Linked DNA regions of Homo sapiens. The protein of the gene in region 1 purifies or fractionates together with the protein of each later gene. This does not show direct contact. Each region holds a gene or a part of one and is shown in the gene's direction. Other genes may lie near its edges.

Region 1 (2,649 bases):
CATGCCTGGCCTCTATTCTATTCCTTAATTTAAAAAATAACTAAACGCTGGTCACCACCCTCTAAACTGATTTCGTGAGTCATTAACGGGCCACTGCCTACAGTGAGAAAGTGACTAGCCTCTGCTCCGCTTTCTTGCTTTGGTCAGAAGTCCCACTCTGAGTGAGGCTGCTGGAGGTTGGGGTGGGTGCTGGTTGTTGGGCTTGACTGCTGCCTGCCGGCTGACACCGCCTCCCGCTCCTGTCACCTGGACAGATGGAGAAGTGCCCGGCAGTGCCGTATTAGTGTTTGACATTGAGCTGCTGGAGCTGGTGGCTGGCCTTCCTGAGGGGTACATGTTCATATGGAATGGTGAGGTGTCACCCAACCTCTTTGAAGAAATTGACAAGGATGGCAACGGAGAAGTCCTCCTGGAAGAGGTAACTAACTGGCCTCTGTAGGAAGGTGGGACCGAAGAGCTCAGGGAGCCTGGTAAGGCCGTGGGGCCGGTTCTGAAGGTAAGGACTTCTAAGGGTGAGGCCAGCTGGCTGGAGGGCTTGTGAGATGACCAGCACACTTGTGTGCCAAGCGCTTTTACACACACCCTCTCGATGGAAGCTCACCATTCCTCTCTGAAGAAACCGATTCCCTAAGAGGTGTAGGGCATGATTCCAGGGCATACAGTCTGCATTTAGTTCTCGTTACTGGGTGCTCAATGCCTGCCTGTATGTGCTGAGTGTATTCTCTGATTTGGCCCTCACAGCAGCTGTTTTTTAGAAGAAACTGCACAGAGAAGGTAAATGACTTGTCCAAGGTCACACATCTACTCAGTTGTTTGAGCCAGGACCACACTCCTCTTTGTGAAGCTGGGCAATAGAACCATCTGTTCTGTCCCACCCCTGGGGAATTCCAGCTCCCTGCCTCTTCCACATCTGCTATTGAAGCACATCCTCCAGCCTTTTCCTCTCTCTCTCCACATCATCAGCCCTTCTGGATCTTTCTCATTTGCATACAAATGTGCTATTATTTTCCCTTCCCTGGATGTGTCTGTTTCTTTCATTGCTTTCCTTCCTTTACAGCAAAAACTTCAAAAGAATTGTGTGTCCTTTCTGCCTCCAATTCCTCTCCTCCCATTCTCTCCTAAACCCACTCCTTTCTGGCATTTGTCCCTCTATGCCTCTGAGCCTGACCTTGCCAGGGTGGCCAATGTCTTCCGTATCGCGGAATCCAGTGGTCAGCTCTTACGCTCCTCTTAACTTCAACACAGCTGATTCCCCTACAGGACGCATCTTTCTCTGGCTTCCAGGACACCACACTTCATGGTGTTCCTTCTACCTCCCTGGTACGTCCCTCTCAGGCCTCTTGTCCCTGATCGCTTCATGTTGGAGTACCCCGGGCTAAGTCTTGACCTTTGTTCTTTTCTCTGTCTTTAAGTCACTCGCTCAGTGGTCTTATCGGGTCCATATCCTGATGGCGTCTGGATTTGTAGCTCCAGTCCAGTCTTCTCTCTCCACTTCACACTCATGTGTTCAGCTGCCTGCTTGATGTCCTCATTTATGGAACCCCTGCTATCCACCCGCACACCCCGCTTGGGGCCTGCTTTACCCAAAGCCTTTCCCGTCGCAGTCAGTGGCATCACTGGCCTCCAGTGGCTCAGGCGAGAGCACTCGGTGATCTCTGACTCCTCTCTTTCTCTCGTAGGCCGTAATGGTCCTCAGGAAATCATTCCAGCTCTACCTTGAGAGCACACACAGAACCTGACGCTTCTTACCACCCCCACCCTGTAGCATCTTAGCCCGGGGCCTGTCATCTCTTTCCCGGGTCACACACAGCAGTGGTGTTCATGAAGCTCCTCCTGCCCTCACAGTGGCTGTTCTCACACAGAAGCTGGGTCAGACCCGCAGAGGCCCCTGTCTACAGGGCCTCACAGTGGCCTGTGAAGACCCTGCACTTTCTGCTCGCTGTAACCTCTTTGCCGGCTGTCTCCCTCTGCCCACTTTACCCGGCCACACCTGCCCCCAGTGCTGTCTGTGACCACCCAGGCATGCGTCCACCTTGAGCCCTGGCACCGGCTGCCCTCTCTGCTCAGGAGACATCTACCCCAGATAACTTGTTCGGTCCTTTCCTTCTCATCTTTCAAGACTTTGCACAAATCTTCCCTTCTCCTTAAAGTTTTATCCTGACCACTGAATTCAACACTTCATCCCTTTCTCCCTTCCTTACTGAGCTCCGCTTTTTGATTTTTTTCTGGAGCATTTCACTTTGTAACTTAATGTGTAATTTACCTATTTTTATGTTCATGTCTAATTGTCTGTTTCCACTAGAATGCAAGCATCACAGGGGCAGGGTGTTTGTGTATTGATGTATTTCAAGATCTAGAACAGTGTGCTCAGCACATAGTAGACCATATGTTTTGATCATATGAATGAATGCCTGCATCCAAGAATGTTCTTACAGTCTTGGGTGGTCTTGGGGGTCAGCCTTTGGTGGGGAACCAACTTGGGAGAAGGAATAGCTCTGACGGCTGCTGGGTATTGGCTACCTGAATAATAAGGGCTCTTGGAGTCATTTAGCACAAGGGTTTTTCACCTGCATTTAGAGAAAAAAAACAAAACACAGATCATAGGTCATATAGCTGCCAAAAAGATCTTGTCTGTGTTGGTAGCCCAGA
Region 2 (3,655 bases), on another chromosome or scaffold:
TCTCTCTCTCTCTCACACACACATACACACACACACACACAAAATTGTTAGCTGGCCATGTTATTGTAACTCCTACCACACATATTTTTACATTATAATACATTAATAATTTTAATATTTATTGAAGTATTTGTAGATACTATAAAGCCAGCCCTGGGAACCACTGGTAGTATCTATAAAGCTTTTCAGCTCTTCAAAATAAAATGTCTGAGAGGTAGATATTTTCCTATTTTCTAATTACAGTTGACCTTTCTCTCTGAATGCCAAAGGAGATAATCTACACATTACTAGTTATATATTTCTTGAAATGGATGAATTTGATATATACCAAGGAAACGTTTTAAAATACCAAAACTTTACATGGATGAGCCAAGCAGGCACTAATCTCTAGCTATGCTCCTGTGCAGATGTCAGCCCACCAAGAAGGGCTCGTGTGACAGATGCTACTGAGACCACCATCACCATTAGCTGGAGAACCAAGACTGAGACGATCACTGGCTTCCAAGTTGATGCCGTTCCAGCCAATGGCCAGACTCCAATCCAGAGAACCATCAAGCCAGATGTCAGAAGCTACACCATCACAGGTCAGGGAACTCATTGCACTAACCACATTTGTTAACAAATACCCACAATGTAAACGGGCTTATTAACTGTTCTACGACTGACACTGATAAAATTTATTTTCAGTGTTATCATCATAACCCAGTTTTAGAACGTTATTTTCATGCTATGATCAGAAATAGTTTTGTCCTTTGAATGCCTGATTTTGTGTAATATTTGTCATGGAAATTGCGTAAGTGTCAATCAACAAGTTTGATCTTCCATCATTGTGCCCTTTCTTATTTAAAAAATTGTAACATAAGGTTTAAAACTAAAAGAAATAAAAAACAGTGATGTATAGATCTTAGCATTAAAAAGCATAGTTAATATAAAAGTAAACAATACCACTTAATAAAGGCCAAAATTGTAACCGAAGAATATTCAATATCTGAGGTCTTTTTTAGCTTTTTAAAATTGTGATTCCAAGGCTCAACTATTGACCATCTGATTACGGTAAAGAGAAAACCTCAATAAGTGGCTGACCCCCATTCTGCAAGAGGGCCTCTTCCAACATAGCATTTTTGCATTCCAGAATTTACTTTACCAGTGTCCTTGTCTGTATCAGTGATTCACTTTCGAGATATGTTTCTTGTTAACAGTTAACATCCATAGCATGCTCTACTTTACTGTTCAAATGTGGACCACTTTGGTAGTCTATATAAATATGGGATGATAGAAGAACCCAGAAAAATTGCAGGCTAGCTTGAGAATTCTCCTAGTAAAAAGCAAGAACTGTTAAAAATCATCTCTTCTCAAATCCCAGGTTTACAACCAGGCACTGACTACAAGATCTACCTGTACACCTTGAATGACAATGCTCGGAGCTCCCCTGTGGTCATCGACGCCTCCACTGGTAACTATACCTTCTACTGAGGAAATGCCATTGACTTGTATGCAATCAGTTTCATGAACTCAAAAAACAAATGTGAGGCGTATATTTTTGTATTATAGATTCCAGAGAATCTTGTTTCCGGTTTACAGTATTCTCAGATTCTTTTAAGTGTGTTTAGAACGGCTCGGGAGAAAAGTGTGGGAGTAATTTTCTTGGTTATTTGCCTTCTTAGAGACTTAATTTTGTTTTCTTTCAGCCATTGATGCACCATCCAACCTGCGTTTCCTGGCCACCACACCCAATTCCTTGCTGGTATCATGGCAGCCGCCACGTGCCAGGATTACCGGCTACATCATCAAGTATGAGAAGCCTGGGTCTCCTCCCAGAGAAGTGGTCCCTCGGCCCCGCCCTGGTGTCACAGAGGCTACTATTACTGGTATTGCTGCTTCCATGCTGTCATTTTCCTTCTTACTACCTAGGACACATGAAGTCCTTAGCAAACTCCCACAGCGTCTTTGATACTGTGTCATGAGAATGCGAAACTCTGTTCCTGATAACCTCAAAAAGCATTCTCTGTGTAGGAGTGGTAGAGCCTAATACATCCCAAAAGGCATGAGTGAAGGAAAATGCAATTTCAAGACTGTACTAATGGCATGACTAGACTCATGTTTTCCTTTCGCTGCAAGTTTGCCAGATACCTGTCAATTCAGTCCTGGAGAAAGATATTTTTCAAAGCATACTAGCTGATTGTGATTCTGTCATTACACTCAGCTCTCTATAGATATGGCAATCTTGCAGGACTTGCCAGTGCACCACCTGCCATTGACCTTGTTGACCACTATCACAGGATAGGTCTTGAGGCAGAGCAGTCCCAACCACCCACATTGGAAGAATGCCTGGAATGGGGAATAAGAGTTGTCTACCTTGGTGGGAAAGACTATAAGCCTCTAGTATTATTTTTGCCCAAGAGATGAAATATTTAAACTATCTGTATTAGTCTGTTTTCATACTGCTATAAAGAGGTTTAATTGACTCACAGTTCCGCATGGCTGGGGAGGCCTCAGAAAATGTACAATCATGGTGGAAGGAAAAGCAGGCATGTCTTACATGGCAGCAGGAGAGAGAAGCACACAGGAGGAACTTCCAGATACTTACAAAACTATCAGATCTTGTGAGAACTCACTATCATGAGAACAGCCTGGGGGAACCACCCCATGATCCAATCACCTCCTCTCCTCAATACATGGGGATTACAATTCCAGATGAGATTTGGATGCAGACACAGAGCCAAACCATATCAGTCTGTATAGAGTATCACCTGGACTTTAAAATTCCCACAGAACATACAGACATTAGAAGGAGACACTGGCTTTTTAGAATTGGGGGGAACAGGAAAATAGAAGCAGACATGAGAGGAATTGAACTAGACACTTCCCACAGAGGCTGCACAAACACTGGCCAATCTCTCCTACCCTTCACTTGCCTTTAGTTTCACTTTTCATTGATCTGCCACTGAGGACTGCTTGGTTATTAGGCCTAAGTAGATTCATGTATATAATCTGCAGGACTCTCTTTCAAATTTATATTCCAGTGGTGGTATATGATGCTGATAGATTTTCTTAAATTCAAAAAGGCAAATAAGACCACGTTAAAAGAATACCCTGGAAAGGCCAGGCGCGGTGGCTCACGCCTGTAATCCCAGCACTTTGGGAGGCCGAGGCAGGCAGATCACAAGGTCAGGAGATCGAGACCATCCTGGCTAACACGGTGAAACCCCATCTCTACTAAAAATACAAAAACAAAATTAGCCAGGCGTGGTGATGGGTGCCTGTAGTCCCAGCTACTCGGGTGGCTGAGGCAGGAGAATGGCTGAACCTGGGAAGCGGAGCTTGCAGTGAGCCGAGATAGCACCACTGCACTCCAGCCTGGGTGACAGAGCCAGACTCCATCTCAAAAAAAAAAAAAAAAAAAAAAAAAAGAATACCCTGGAAAAGTTAGCCAAAAAATGTCTATTCAGGCGTCAGATATGATAGTAAGATAATTAGTTTGCGATGCGGACTTTATATGCAGGATATTTGGGTGTTTATGGAGGAAAAGTGAAGTCGATTTTACCTTCAAGAGGCCAACAGCCAGCTGGAGAGGAAGTGCCTGCTCCCAGTAGCGTCTGCTGGTGAGACCGACTTCCACTTGACTAGCTGAGCCCATTGACATAATGTGATGGTT
Region 3 (3,655 bases), on another chromosome or scaffold:
CCCCTTCCATCTCCAGTAACTCCCTGTCTTTTGTCTTGTATCTCCACAGGAAGTACATGACCTGCTCAGTGACTATGAGCTCAAATACTGTTTTGTGGACAAATACAAAGGGACAGGTTTGTGGGGCCATGGGGCGGGCCAGGGCAGGGAGTGACCATCCCTGAAGATGGGAGGGCCTGGCTCACTGTCTGCTGCTCTGAGCTTCAGGCCCAGTATTGCCCCCCAGGCCAACATGGCAGGTTGCCCCAATCTGCCTGTCATCCTGTCATCTTGGGACAGCCTTCATGTTCTCCTTGGAGAACACTGGGCATCGGGCTGATTCTCTTCCTACTCCACTCGCTTGGCATTGAGCTAATTCTTGACAACGTTTGGCCGTGGGTTCATTCTCTTCTTACCCCTCTTGCCTCACTCAGCCAGTCACCCCTGCTTGTGTGGTCTTTTTTTTTTTTTTTTTGAGATGGAGTCTTGCTCTGTCGCCAGGCTGGAGTGCAGTGGCGCGAGCTCGGCTCGCTGCAACCTCCGCCTCCTGGGTTCAGCCCATTCCCCTGCTTCAGCCTCCCGAGTAGCTGGGATTACAGGCATGTGCCACCATGCCCGGCTAATTTTTGTATTTTTAGTAGAGACAGGGTTTCTACCTGGGTGGGTCCAGGTTAACCAGGTGAGGAGGTGGGGCTCAGTGTTCCATGCTCAAGAAACAGCAGCTGCAAAGGCCCCTCTGGAGTGTGCCTGGCGTGGTCCGGGTGGCAGCGGTGAGATGGGAGGGGAGGTCAGCGAGCCCGCACAGGCTGCACTGCACCCTGCAGCTAGAAGCCACAAGATGGATGTGGCGTGATCGTTTTGAACAAAGCTTCCTGCGGCCGCTGGGTGGATCGCAAATCTGGGGCAGCACGTGGCAGCAGGGTTCAGGGGCACTGGTGGCCTGGAAAGGTGGCAGGGGTGGGCAGTGTGTAGAGTGGGCCTCTGGAGTCCGGCTGCCTGGGTTCAAGTCCAGGCTCCCCTACTCGGGGCACAGGGGTGCTGCTCTGGGCCCGTTTCCTCTCTGGCAAAATGGTGATTGTGATGATTAAGTTATATCCATTTGAGAGATGAGGAAACTGATACCCCCAAAGCCACCTGGGGCTTGGGGCTTAAATCTGGGCCCCAGTGAGCATGGGCTTAACCACTGCCCTTGGTATCACCCGAGTGACCCACAGCGTTCTTAGGACAGAGCCAGGCCCACAGTTGGTGAGCGCTGCTGTGGGTGCAGGTGGACGCAGGGCTGGGAGAGGGAGTGGGCTTCGTGGAGCCTAGAGTCAATGGCAGGCGCTCTCGCCTGTGTGAGTCGCCAAGGCTGGCAACTGCTCAGATCAGCAGGCACCTGAGATGCCCAGCATTTGGAGGTCCCACCTGGTTTGCAGGGTGGCGGGGTGGAGGGGCAGGCCCTCAGGGCCCGGCTGACCTCGCACTGCCCTCCTCCCACCGCAGCCTTCGTGACCCTGCTGAATGGGGAGCAGGCCGAGGCCGCAATCAATGCTTTCCACCAGAGCCGCCTGCGGGAGCGTGAACTGTCGGTGCAGCTGCAGCCCACGGATGCCCTGCTGTGTGTGGCCAACCTGCCCCCCAGCCTCACACAGCAGCAGTTCGAGGAGCTGGTGCGGCCCTTCGGCAGCCTGGAGCGCTGCTTCCTGGTCTACAGTGAGCGCACTGGCCAATCCAAGGGCTATGGCTTTGCTGAGTACATGAAGAAGGACTCGGCTGCCCGTGCCAAGTCGGACCTGCTGGGCAAGCCGCTGGGACCACGCACCCTCTACGTGCACTGGACGGATGCCGGGCAACTGACGCCTGCCCTTCTCCACTCCCGCTGCCTCTGTGTGGACCGCCTGCCACCTGGCTTCAACGATGTGGACGCTCTGTGCCGGGCGCTGTCAGCTGTCCACAGCCCCACCTTCTGCCAGGTGAGCCCTGTGGAGAGCATTGGGGAGCAGGTGCCAGGCCCGGAGCACCTGAGAGAGTCTTTGGAGTCATCTGCCTTTTCTTTTTTTTTTTTGAGACAGTCTCACTTTGTCACCCATGCTGGAGTGCAGTGATACAATCTCAGTTCACTGCAACCTCCGCCTCTTTGGTTCAAGCAATTCTCTTGCCTTAACCTCCAGAGTAGCTGGGATTATAGGCGCCCCGCCCCCATGCCTGGATAATTTTTATATTTTTAGTAGAGATGGGGTTTTGCCATGTTGGCCAGGATAGTCTTGAACTCCTGGCCTCAGGTGATCCTCCCAAAGTGCTGGGATTACATGCGTGAGCCACCACACCTGGCCAGGGGATTTGAATCCCTCTGCAGCCTCAGGCCTCACTGTCCCTCTATCAGATGCATGCAAGGCCACTCTTGTAACTATGGATCTCGAGGCTTGCTCACCACTCACCTCCTCATTCGCTGGTACCCTCGTCAAACCTCCCATGGGGTCCCAGACCTGGACCAGGCATTGAGGAGGCTGCAGAGGAGCCCACAGTCTATTTGAGCCTTGAGGTCAGAGACTGAGGCTTTGCCAGATCCCAGCCCCGCCCTCGAGCTCGGGCCAGTCACTGGCTCTCTGATCTGCAGTTTCCCTCCTCCATAAGCAGGGACTCAATACTTGCACAATGGGTTGGCAAAACAGTCCCTTGTTCATTCAAGCCACACATGCCAGGCACTTCTGTGTGTGTGCCTCGCCCTGTAACAGGTGCAGTGGGGCGAGAACAGGCCAGACTCACTCTCTAAGAGCCCCCAGAAGGTCTTGATCCCCAGAGATCCCAAAGGGGACATTCCCCCAGCACTCGCTGTGGACTCTGAGTACGTAACCTTCAGTTGCTTCATCCTGTAGCAACCCTGAGAGGCAGGTATCACTCCCATTTTCAGGTGAGGATACCAAGGCACAGAGGGGTCAAGTAACTTGCCTAGAGTTAAACAGCCAGGGTCTGGCAGAGCTGGGATCAGAACACCGCAGCCTAGCTCCAGAGCTTGGGCCAGTGAGCGGAGGCCAGTGCAGAGGCTTAAAAGGGGTAGGCCTGGCCAGGTGCAGTGACTCACACCTGTAACCCTAACACTTTGGGAGGCTGAGGCGGGCGGATCCCTCGAGCCCAGGAGTTCGAGACCAGCCTGGGCAATATGGTGAAATCCTCTCTATACAAAAATTAGATAGGTATGATGGTGTGCCTGTAGTCCCAGCTACTCAGGAGGCTGAGGTGGGAGGATTGCCTGATTCTGGGAGTCCGAGGCTGCAGTGAGCCATGATCGCACCACAGCACCATGACACTACAGCCTGAGCAACAGAGCTAGACCCTTATCTCAAAAACAGAGAGACAGTCCTGGGCTCGGACCCCCAGCTCTGTGGGCTTGAGTGGGTCCCTCTCGTGTAAGTGGGGTATTGGTGCCCCATTTAAACTAGGTGTCTGTTGGGAGGCAGAGGCAGGAGGATCACTCGAGACCAGGAGTTCAAGACTAGCCTGGGCAAGATAGTGGGACACCATCTCTATATTTAAAACAAGAAACAGGCTGGGTGAGGTGGCTCATGCATGTAATCCCAGCACTTTGAGAGGCCGAGGCAGGTGGATCACTTGAGGTCAAGAGTTCAAGACCAGCCTGGCCAACATGGTGAAACCCTGTCTCTACTAAAAATACAAAAAAAATTAGCCAGGTGTG

Evidence for each region.
Region 2: the proteins of FKBP9 (region 1) and FN1 purify together in Homo sapiens (co-immunoprecipitation; 3 studies listed by BioGRID and IntAct, with this or other methods). This does not show direct contact.
Region 3: the proteins of FKBP9 (region 1) and RAVER1 purify together in Homo sapiens (co-immunoprecipitation; 3 studies listed by BioGRID and IntAct, with this or other methods). This does not show direct contact.

What each region holds. Positions count from the first base shown.
Region 1 is NC_000007.14:33,002,422-33,005,070, forward strand, and holds part of FKBP9 (peptidyl-prolyl cis-trans isomerase FKBP9 isoform 1 precursor), read left to right. Parts: intron 1-254; coding exon 255-418; intron 419-2,649. UniProt on the Homo sapiens protein: PPIases accelerate the folding of proteins during protein synthesis.
Region 2 is NC_000002.12:215,373,427-215,377,081, reverse strand, and holds part of FN1 (fibronectin isoform 1 precursor), read left to right. Parts: intron 1-407; coding exon 408-584; intron 585-1,363; coding exon 1,364-1,453; intron 1,454-1,688; coding exon 1,689-1,868; intron 1,869-3,655. UniProt on the Homo sapiens protein: Fibronectins bind cell surfaces and various compounds including collagen, fibrin, heparin, DNA, and actin. Fibronectins are involved in cell adhesion, cell motility, opsonization, wound healing, and maintenance of cell shape.
Region 3 is NC_000019.10:10,326,921-10,330,575, reverse strand, and holds part of RAVER1 (ribonucleoprotein PTB-binding 1), read left to right. Parts: intron 1-49; coding exon 50-116; intron 117-1,464; coding exon 1,465-1,934; intron 1,935-3,655. UniProt on the Homo sapiens protein: Cooperates with PTBP1 to modulate regulated alternative splicing events. Promotes exon skipping. Cooperates with PTBP1 to modulate switching between mutually exclusive exons during maturation of the TPM1 pre-mRNA.